2 separate regions of the Homo sapiens genome follow, and region 2 is linked to region 1. Evidence: fine-mapped expression QTL. A gene starts in region 1. The other region holds a variant in brackets. All regions are shown on one strand. Distances are between the middles of the regions.

Region 1 (5,390 bases):
CATGGGACAGAGCTCCTATAGCTCTTGGTTTCCTGTTCTCACTCTAGTTCTTCCTGGTTGTAGCCTCGTGGTTGCAAAACTCACCCAACAACTCCCACTACAGAACTGAAGCCATGGCATGTAATGACTACAGGAGGAGATCAATTTACAGAAATATCTTAATGTAAAGTTCACGTGCCTGATTGAAGAGGTAAAGCCAACATGTGGTCATTCAAGAAAAGAGAACTCAAAGGACTACACAAGTAGTTCCTTTGTCCAGTTATTGATAAGGGTACAAGAAGCAGTTATCTCTTTCAGAAAACAGGCAATCAGTTTGAAGAACAAAGATTTCCAAAGGACATGATAGCTTATAATTACTTCTCCACTACTCACTCAGTATATCAAACTATAATTTTCTTGATTCTGGACACATGGCCAGAAAAAGTGAAAACAATGGTTATTTCAATGGGAAATCCACCTCAAAGAAGAAAAGTAAAACTGGGGTGAAAACTAACATATTAAGAAATCCATAAACAAGTACACAACTCTTTATCTCAAAAGAGATAAAGAATTCTGTCAAAACACTTCTCCCATCACAATTAAAAACTTGCAAGCATCTCTCTTTTTAAAAAAGCATGATCAATCATAGGAATTTATCCCCAATGGTTTGAACATGAAAGCAGGAAATACAACTATAGATCTACTATAAACAACCCGCTTTCAGAACTTTTCCAATTCATAACACCCCTCTTTGTGAGACTGGTTGAGTTGGCAAGGCCAATTAACAGAAGGTGCCAGCTGTTTTTGTCGTTTCAGATTCTGACATTTTTAGCCCTCTTATTGAAAAACATAAAGTGTTATATCACTTAGCATGAAATCTTTGCCTGCAAAGAAAGTGAATATTTATAAACTCTAAGACTAGAGAGGCTCTTAAAGGATACCTAGTTTCCCCCAAGGTTGCAACTGTCACACCTGCTCCAAATCTTAAACCTGGGAACTCTGCTTACCTCCTTCACTTAGAACTTTTATAATACATCTAAGTTCAAAGATGACAACTCGAATGCTTTCTTGTGACAACATAAGACATTTGAATTTATTTATCTACTACCTAGTTAGCTGGAACACAATTGGGTTACTGCTAATTCTGAAAGTGTAAAAAAATATTTTTTTGTTTAGGTTTCCAGTGTGCATTTAAAGATACACAACCTCTGAGAGAGAAATTACGTCAAGGTTAACCTAAAATCAAGAGCAGGCAACATGCCTTACGGTGCATTGTAACATCTTGCAAAAGTAAACAGAGCCATATGCTCTTGGTCACATGCCACCAGTACAGAAGTCAAAGGAATATATAGTGTGTTTAAGGCGAGCATATTTATATTTCAAGAGAGGAACATCTATTTCACCCTGCACCACTTCTCTCAGCAAGCCAGTGTGAGCCAGAAAGGGTAGGGCGGAATCAGAAAGAGAGCTGGATCTAAGGCAGGGACAGTGGAGTGGATGGGATAGAGGGCACCAGAATCCAGCCTCCCTCTTGCTCCACCCTACCTAGAGCTAGTGAGGAAGCGCCAGGCTTATATTGCAAGATGAGCCAGGAAACCCAAAAGCAGCTATGAAGAACCAGGAACGTGGGGCGAGGGGAGGAGTCGGCGAACTCTCCGACATGTCCTCAAGACAGAAGGCCAAGCTTGAGGCCTGCGGCCACCCACCCACCCTACAGCCACCAGCCTTGACCCAAGGAGTCCGGAGCCTCCCAGGTGCGGGACGCATGCGCACGGTGACACTGCGCACGCCCCGAGGCCGCAGCCCACCCTCCACAGACACTGAGCCGCAAACTGCGCCAGGCCCCGCGTCGCCTCTCGCCGGATCAGGGCCTCGGAGCTCCGCAGCCACGGCTGCCGCTCCCCAGGCCCTGGTCGTGGGCATCACCTGGGTCCAGACCTTTGGGCTCACACCTCCCGTTGACGTGCAAGCGCCGCAGTCCCTGAGTCGTTTCTTTAGATCAGGGCGCCGCCGGCGTCCACCGAACTTGCTTCAGTTTAAGCTCAGCGCCTTCCTGGTTCTAGCGCCAGGCAGCTTCAGCCGAGATATCGAGTGCATCGATGGACGCTGCCAGGCGCTGGGAATGCCGAGGGAGTAGATTGTAACGCGGCCGATTTTTTGTTTGGCGTTTGTTTTGCGTGCCTGTTTATTTTGATTTTATTGTTACCAAAAGCAATAAAGGTGGGACTGGAGAGTGTTATTGTCTTAGTAGTCGTCGTTATCGTCATGGGTAATCAGTAAACAAATCTGCATCGTAGGAAGTTTTGTTTATGACACCTACCCGAAACAAAATTGGTTATCTCACGCTGGGGGAGGGGGAAACTCGCCCAACGATAATAAATCATGGGAGTGTGTCTGTATAGAGTCGTGTGTGATTAAATTGTAATGATTTATTTGCAAAAATGCATTAAAAGTCGGTGTTTCTTCTGCCCTGAAGGTGAAGGCACTCACAAGTTGAGTGCAAATTAGTTTCTCAGATTAAAGTAACTGGTTAGTAGAGGAATAGGAGAGAGCTGCCTGAGGCGAGGCGGGGAGCGGTTTCTTCTGAAAGAGAACTCAAATTTATAGGTGTGTGGAGTTTTTTTATTTAAACCAATAGAAATTAAAGAGACTCAGCATTTTCTGTAATTCATACTACATTACTTATTTTTCCTTACATGGAAATTTTTTCCTCATTTACTCTTAAGCAAAGCTAAAAAGATAAATAAATTGTTGGCCTGGGTTTTGGTCGACTATGAGAATCAACTCATTCACCACTGCTAGATAACCAAGCTACAGTTTTCCGCAGACATTTGAGATGGTGAAAAATCACCTCCACAATATATTTTTCGTAAATAATGTACCTTAACTAGCCAGTTTTGAGGCACCGTTTTAAAACTTAACTACTACAACACTACGTGTATATTTTAAATAATTCAAGAGCTGGGGAAACCCTTGGGGTCCTGAATTTTATTGGAACCTGTGCATCTGTCCACAGACTGTCAGCTGAGCTTTACCATAAATGCTTTTTTTTTTTTTTAAACAAAAACTGTATTTTGAAATGCCCTGTTTCTGGAAGATATTTGCTGTTTAATGAAACAACATCATTGGAACTTTGTGAGCATTTATTAATGTATGAATTTAAAACCTTGAAATATTTTTTAAAGTAACTTCCCTTAGGCCAGTGGAAATCTGTGGTCAGACACTAAAGATTTCTCATGGCTCCATCTGTTATCAACACTACTATTCCTAAATATGCAATGAGCCAAAAAGCTGAGATCATGGGAAAATTTATTGGTTTGAATTACACAATAGTTGTGTCTGTGACTTCCCTGATTACCTTCAAAGTGGTCATCTTTCCCTCAAGCTCAGTAGATGAAATATGACTTCAAACCTAAAAGTCATGTACTTAAAAAGGCAAACAAGTAGCTGGTGGGTCTCCTGATTCCTTAACCGACTTCTAACAGTGGTTATTTTTGAGTTATTTGTGAATATGTATTTAACACCTCAGTTTGAGAGCACCTTGAGCACCGTATCCTCTTAGCTCTCCCTATTACTGGCCCTTCTGCTAAATAATCTTAAAAACAGATTTTCATAAAGGACTAAAGTTGTATGATTATTTTCCTCTGATAATATCAGAAAGTAGTTACAAAGAGTAACCCAAGACTCAATGTGAAATTGTTTCTAAATTCGTATAACTTTGAAACTTTGTCCCTTTTGTGGTGTAACAAAACAAAAGCAAGTACTGATAACAATGTATTCATACCTAAAAGCTATAGCTGCGGAAAAATTATAGACATTAGCTCTCCTAAAAGTGGCAAAAAATGAAATGTTTTAAAAAGGGAAAACAACGTTTCTAAAAAGCATGATATACATAATCCTTAAACTCACCAAACATGAACATTTTAATGTGAGTATTGTAGTATAACATAAGGTTATATCCAGCTTCTATCTACATCTATTTGAGAAACACTAATATATTAAGTTATAATTGTGTTCTCTTTTTGCAAGTGTTTCAGGTTGTTTTGACGGAACTTCTTAAATTATCTGCTAATTTGTTTTGATGCCTTAACCAATATACGGAAGATATACATATTAATGTTCTGTAATTCCTCTTATTTTTACTAAGAGTATTAGATCCAAAATAATGATCAAGTTACCTTTAACTTCCAGAAAGTCTGCATTAATATTCAGAGTACTTGAAAATGTCCCCTAAGCCACACTTAGAGGTATATTTGTTTACACACTTAAATATAACATCATATGTAAATATTCTTTTGTGAGTATGTATTTGCATAGCCACACTTCTCACAGCAAGCCCTGTCCGGCACAATACAGACAAATGACTCAGGAATATAGATGTTCCTCTAACGTAACAAACCGTTCCGATGAAAATAGCCCAGAAATAGAATTTTAAATCGTAAGCGGGGTGGTGGGGGGGGTAGGCAGAGAGACCTTTACTCCTGGCGAGCGTCTCTTTTTTAGCTCTCCGTAATAAATGAAATTAGAGGGGGTACAAACTTAACGTCGATTTTTTTTTCAGACTCGAAGAGGGATAATCTCTTGTTTTTCAAATTAGTAAATAAACTCGGATGTTTCCCAAGATGCTAAAGAAGAAGTCCTGTAATTCACCATAGAGGGGTCCGAGTGCAGAGAGTAAGGGAGAAGGGTGGGAGTTCTGAGACCTCAGAGAGGAAACGAACGAAGTCGAGCTGTCCTTGACCGGGCGCTAAGGAAACACTTTAAAATGAGATCTGTCAGCTAACAGCTGCTGGGGAAACTTGTTAAATCGACTGGTCCCTTTTAGCGGGGTCTGTCCATAGAGGAGTCAGCTGGGCTCCAGGACACGAATAATAGAGCGAATAACACGGACCGAGGGGCGAGGAGCTTGGAGAAGACCCGGACTCAGCCTGCCTGCGAGCCGGGAAGCTCCTAAGAGAAGCTGCGCGGGTCGGAGAAGGTGCAGGCAACCCTGTCTCTGGGCAGGATGATGCTGGGCGGTGGAGCTACGGCCGGCAGGGGTGGGATTGTGAGGGAGAGGCGGGGATGCAGAATTGGGATGCGGGGTCAGGATGCGGGAATGGGATGCGGGGCCTGTAAACTGCTGGGCGGTTGATGCAGGGCAGGGACGAGGAAAAGCAATGCGAAGCTGAGCATTGCGAGGCACCCTGACTCGAAGCAAGGCTGTAGGGAAGGATGCAGTGTCGGGATACCTGACTGACTCTAAGAGCTGCGCACTTGTCAGTTTCCTCTTGGCCCCACCCCGCGGGGTCTATCCAGCTCCCCAGTGTTTAACTAAGTCGTGACACCAACGCAAAATCCACGCCTAATTAAATTAATTAGGGATTCTTGTCAATCCTGGATTAATGGCCAAGAGCACAGGCGGCAGGGGC
Region 2 (5,390 bases), 330 kb before region 1:
ATTAATTATGGTACTTTAGGGCGGTAGATCTCAAACTTCAGCATGTGTCAGCATCAAATGGAAAGTTTGCAAAACAGACTGACGGCTGAATATGGTCAAGATTTTGTTTTTTAAAAAAATCTCAAACTGTTTATTTAGAAACACAGAATTTTAAATATATTTATCCCAATGTGATTTTTTTGGTGAACCCATGAGTTACTCAGAAGAATGCTTTAAACTTTATTTATATTGTTTACATTGATGTTCTGATTTAATTTCATAAGGATCAAAGAATATAGTCTATTAATAATCATTGGCCTGTTTAGATTTGCTTTATTAAAAAATGGTCCATTTTGGAAATGTTTAATTGGTACTTGGAAAAACTGTGTAGGCATACTTCGTTTTTTTCGTTGTTGTTGTTGTTGTTATAAGTTCGAGGGTACATGTGCACAACATGCAGGTTTGTTACATATATATACATGTGCCATGTTGGTGTGCCGCACCCATTAACTCGTCATTTATGTTAGGTGTATCTCCTAATGCTGTCCCTCCCCGCTACCCCCACCCCACGACATGCCCCGGTGTGTGAGGTTCCCCTTCCTGTGAACAAGTGTTCTCATTGTTCAATTCCCACCTATGAGTGAGAACATGTGGTGTTTGGTTTTTTGTCCTTGCGATAGTTTGCTGAGAATGATGGTTTCCAGCTTCATCCATGTCCCTACAAAGGACATGAACTCACCCTTTTTTATGGCTGCATAGTATTTCATGGGGTGTATGTGCCACATTGTCTTAATCCAGTCTATCACTGATGGACATCTGGGTTTGTTCCAAGTCTTTGCTATTGTGAATAGTGCCGCAATAAACATACCCGTGCATATGTCTTTATAGTAGCATGATTTATATTCCTTTGGGTATACACCCAGTAATGGGATGGCTGGGTCAAATGGTATTTCTAGTTCTAGATCCTTGAGGAATCGCCACACTGTCTTTCACAATGGTTGAACTAGTTTACAGTCCCACCAACAGTGTAAAAGTGTTCCTATTTCTCCACATCCTCTCCAGCACCTGTTGTTTCCTGACTTTTTAATGATTGCCATTCTAACTGGTGTGAGATGGTATCTCATTGTGGTTTTGATTTGCATTTTTCTGATGGCCAGTGATGATGAGCATTTTTTCATGTGTCTTTTGGCTGCATAAATGTCTTCTTTTGAGAAGTGTCTGTTCATATCCTTCGCCCATTTGTTGATGGGGTTGTTTTTTTCTTGTAAATTTGTTTGAGTTCTTTGTAGATTCTGGATATTAGCCCTTTGTCAGATGAGTAGATTGCAAAAAATTTTCCTACTCTGCAGGTTGCCTGTTCACTCTGATGGTAGTTTCTTTTGCTGTGTAGAAGCTCTTTAGTTTAATTAGATCCCATTTGTCAATTTTGGCTTTTGTTGCCATTGCTTTTGCTGTTTTAGACATGAAGTCCTTGCCCATGCCTACGTCCTGAATGGTATTGCCTAGGTTTTCTTCTAGGGTTTTTATGGTTTTAGGTCTAATATTTAAGTCTTTAATCCATCTTGACTTACTTTTTGTATATGGTGTAAGGAAGCGATCCAGTTTCAGCCTTCTATATATGGCTAGCCAGTTTTCCCAGCACCATTTATTAAATAGGGAATCCTTTCCCCATTGCTTGTTTTTGTCAGGTTTGCCAAAGATCAGATGGTTGTAGATGTGTGGTATTATTTCTGAGGGTTCTGTTCTGTTCCATTGGTCTATATCTCTGTTTTGGTGCCAGTACCTTGCTGTTTTGGTTACTGTAGCGTTGTAGTATAGTTTGAAGTCAGGTAGTGTGATGCCTCCAGCTTTGTTCTTTTGGCTTAGGATTGTCTTGGCAATGTGGGCTCATTTTTGGCTCCATATGAAGTTTAAAGTAGTTTTTTCCAATTCTGTGAAGACACATTTTGGTAATTCTGACAATACTTTAAGCTTTTTAGCTATTATTACATCTGTTGATATCTGTCACCTGTGATCAGTGATTTTTGATGCTACTGCTGTGTTTTGGGATGCCACAAACCAGGCCCATATAGGGCAATTAACTTAATTGATAAGTGTATGTGTGTTTTCTGACTGTGCCACCAACTGGCTGTTCCTCTGTCTCTTGCCCTCTCCCTGTACCTCTCTGTTCCCTGAGACACAACAATACTGAAATAAGGCCCATCAGCAACCCTACAATAGCCTTTGAGTGTTCAAGTGAAAGGAAGAGCCACACATCTCTCACTTCATATGAAAAGCCAGAAATGACTAAGCTTAGTGAGAACGCATGTCAAAAGCTGAGATGAGGGAAAAGATAGGCCTCTTGTGCCAAATAGTGCAACACATTGTGAATGCAAAGGAAAAGTTCTTGATAGAAATTAAAAGTGCTACTCAAGTGAACACATAAATGGTAAGAAAGTGAAACATCCTTATTGCTGATAGGGACAAAGTTTGAGTGGTCTAGGTAGAAAATTAAACCAGCCATACCATTAAGCTTAGCCAAAAGCCTAATCCAGAGCAAAGTCCTAACTTTCTTAAATTCTGTGAAGGCTGACAGAGGTGAGGAAGCTGCTGAAGAAAAGTCTAAAGCTATCAGAAGTTGGCTTGTGAGGTTTAAGGAAAGAAGTAATCTTCATAACATAAAAGTGCAAGGTGAAGCAGCAATGCTGATGGAAAGGCTGCTGCAAGTGATCCAGAAGATCTAGCTAAGATCATTGATGAAGGCGGCTACGCTAAATGACAGATTTTCAATGCAGACAAAACCGCTTTCTAGGAAAGAAGATGCCATCTAGGATTGTCATAGGTAGAGAGAGGAAGTCAATGCCTGGTGTCAAAGCTTCAAAGGACAAGCTGACTCTCGTGTCAGGGGCTAACGCAGCTGGTGACTTTAAGCTTGAAGCCAGGGCTCATTTCTCATTCTAACAATCTAAGGGTCCTTAAGAATGATGCTAAATCTACTCTGCCTGTGCTCTATAAATGGAACAACAAAGCTTGGATAACAGCACAGCTGTTTATAGCATGGTTTATGATTATTTGAAGCCCACTGTTGAGATCTGTTGCTCAGAAAAAAAAGATTTCTTTTAAAATATTATTGCTTATTGACAGTATACCTGGTCACCCAAGAGCTTTGATGGAGACATACAAGAGGATTAATGCTGTTTTCACGCCTGCTAACAGAACATTCATTTTGCAGCCCACAGATCACAGAAAA[A/T]TTGACTTCCAAGTCTTACTGTTTAAGAAATACATTTTCTAGGGCTATGGCAGCTATAGCCCTATAAAATGTATTTCTTAAACAATAAGACTTGAAAGTCCTCTGATGGACTTCCAAAGTAAATGAAAACCTTCTGGAAAGGATTTTGCCATTCTAAATGCCATTAAGAACATTTGTGATTCCTGGGAGGAGGTCAAAATAGCAACATTAACAGGGGTTTGGAAGAAGTAGCTTCAAACCCCTCATGGATGATTTTGAAGGGCTCAAGACTTCAGTGGAGGATGTAACTGCAGTTTGTGGTAAAAATAGCAAGAGAACTAGAATTAGAAGTGGAGCATGAAGATGTGACTGAACCTGAAGGGATGAGAAATTGCTTCTTAAGTATTAACAAAAAAAATTGTTCCTTAGATGGAATATACTCCTGTTAAAGATGTTGGGGACATTGTTAAAAATGACAACAAATGATTTAGAGTATTATACAAAAACTTAGTTGATAAAGCAGCAACACAGTTTGAGAGGATTGACTCCAATGTTGAAAGAAATTCTACCGTGGGTAAAATGCTATCTAATAGCATTGCATGTTACAGAGAAATATTTTATGAAAGAGTCAATCATTGCAAACTTCACTGTCTTATTTTAAGAAACTGCCACAGCCATCCCAACCTTCAGCAACCGCCACCCTCATCAATGGGCAGCCATAAACATCAAGGTGAGACCCTCCTCACTAAAGGCTCAGATGACTTGTCAGCATGTTTTAGTAATAAAATATTTTTTAATTAAGTCATGTACATTGTTTTTTAGACAATGCTATTATACACTTAATAGACTACAGTACAGTATAAACATAACTTTTATATGCACTGGTAGGGAAATCAAAAAATTTGTGATTTGCATTACTGTGGCATTTGCTTTGTTGTGGTGGTCTGGAATCAAACCCACAGTATCTCTGAAGTATGCCTGTATATTCCCTAAATCTTGAGTTCAGGGTCCTTTGTATTCACTAGAGCATACTGTAAGTTTGTTGTTTAGTTTAATACTTCTCTCACCATGGTGACAAGATTCACAGTTTATCCTCACAATCGTGTCAATTTTGCTTTATGTATCCTGAAGTTGTGTTATCAGATGCACACAAGTTATAATTCTTCTACTGTATTGCTGTATTCTGAGATTTTGCATTTTTAACAAGTTCCATGTGATGCTAATGTTGCAGTTCTAGGTTCTACACTTTGAGAAGTATTACTTGAGAATAACAGAAGAGAATACACAAGTTTATTAGGAATTGGAGAGATTATCTGTTAAATAACACATCTTGTGACCCCAAATCTTAATCATGTTATTATGGGCCTCATGATCCAGGATGCAGGAATATTCTTGCTCCAAAAATAAAAAAAAAACCCTACTGATAGCACAATACCTTGGGTGTTTGGTTCTTTCTTTTGTTAATATCTTGTTGCCAATATATTTAAAAAAGTCTTTGTTTGTATTTTGCCAAGATAAGATCGTAGATCTTCAAAACGTTTTAGTAGACTTTGTCTCTTCAGCTCATCTGTTTAACCCTAGTACTCAATATATTGCTAAACAACAGATGCTTAATATATGACTCAATGAATACTGCCAAGAAGTCAGAAAGTAAAGATACACTTCATAACCCAGATTTAGAGAATCATAGAAATTGTCCTATCATTCCATTTGTTAACATTCCAACAGACTGTAGGAGAAGCAGACAGATACATTATTCTTTTTGGGCCATTTAATAACATTATTAAAAATTAAGACCTATAAGTTAAGCAGCTGAATGCTTATGTACGATTAATAAAAACATAAAACCATGCAAGAGATTTCACTTCAAACACCTGAAAGTGATTTCTCTAATATTTATTTTCTTTCATTTTTTTTCTTATGAGATGGAGTTTTGCTCATGTTGCCCAGGCTGGAATGCAATGGGGTGATCTCGGGTCTCTGCAAGCTCTGCCTCCTGGGTTCAAGCAATTCTCCTACCTCGGCCTCCCAAGTAGCTGGGATTACAGGCAGCGCCACCACACCCAGCTAATTTTGTATATTTATTAGAGATGGGGTTTCACCATGTTCGTCAGGTTGGTTTCAAACTCCTGACCTCAGGTGATCCACCCACCTCAGCCTCCCAAAGTGCTGGAATTACAGGCATGAGCCACTGCGCCCAACT

What was found. PIP is the estimated chance that this variant, and not a neighbour inherited with it, causes the effect.
Region 2: its variant is fine-mapped to the expression of RSRC1 in whole blood (INTERVAL, PIP 0.94).

What each region holds. Positions count from the first base shown.
Region 1 is chr3:158,106,739-158,112,128 of GRCh38, reverse strand. It overlaps RSRC1 (arginine and serine rich coiled-coil 1), which reads right to left and starts at 2,040. Exons shown (of 10, transcript NM_001271838.2): 1 at 1,906-2,040. RefSeq lists enhancers at 1,467-1,516, 1,378-1,877, 1,727-2,076, 1,878-2,379, 5,018-5,390.
Region 2 is chr3:158,440,662-158,446,051 of GRCh38, reverse strand. All of the region lies in intron 6 of RSRC1 (arginine and serine rich coiled-coil 1), which reads right to left. Among named protein-coding and RNA genes, the nearest start is that of UC.134, 83 kb to the left of the region's middle. The variant A/T (reference allele first, on the strand shown) is at 3,209.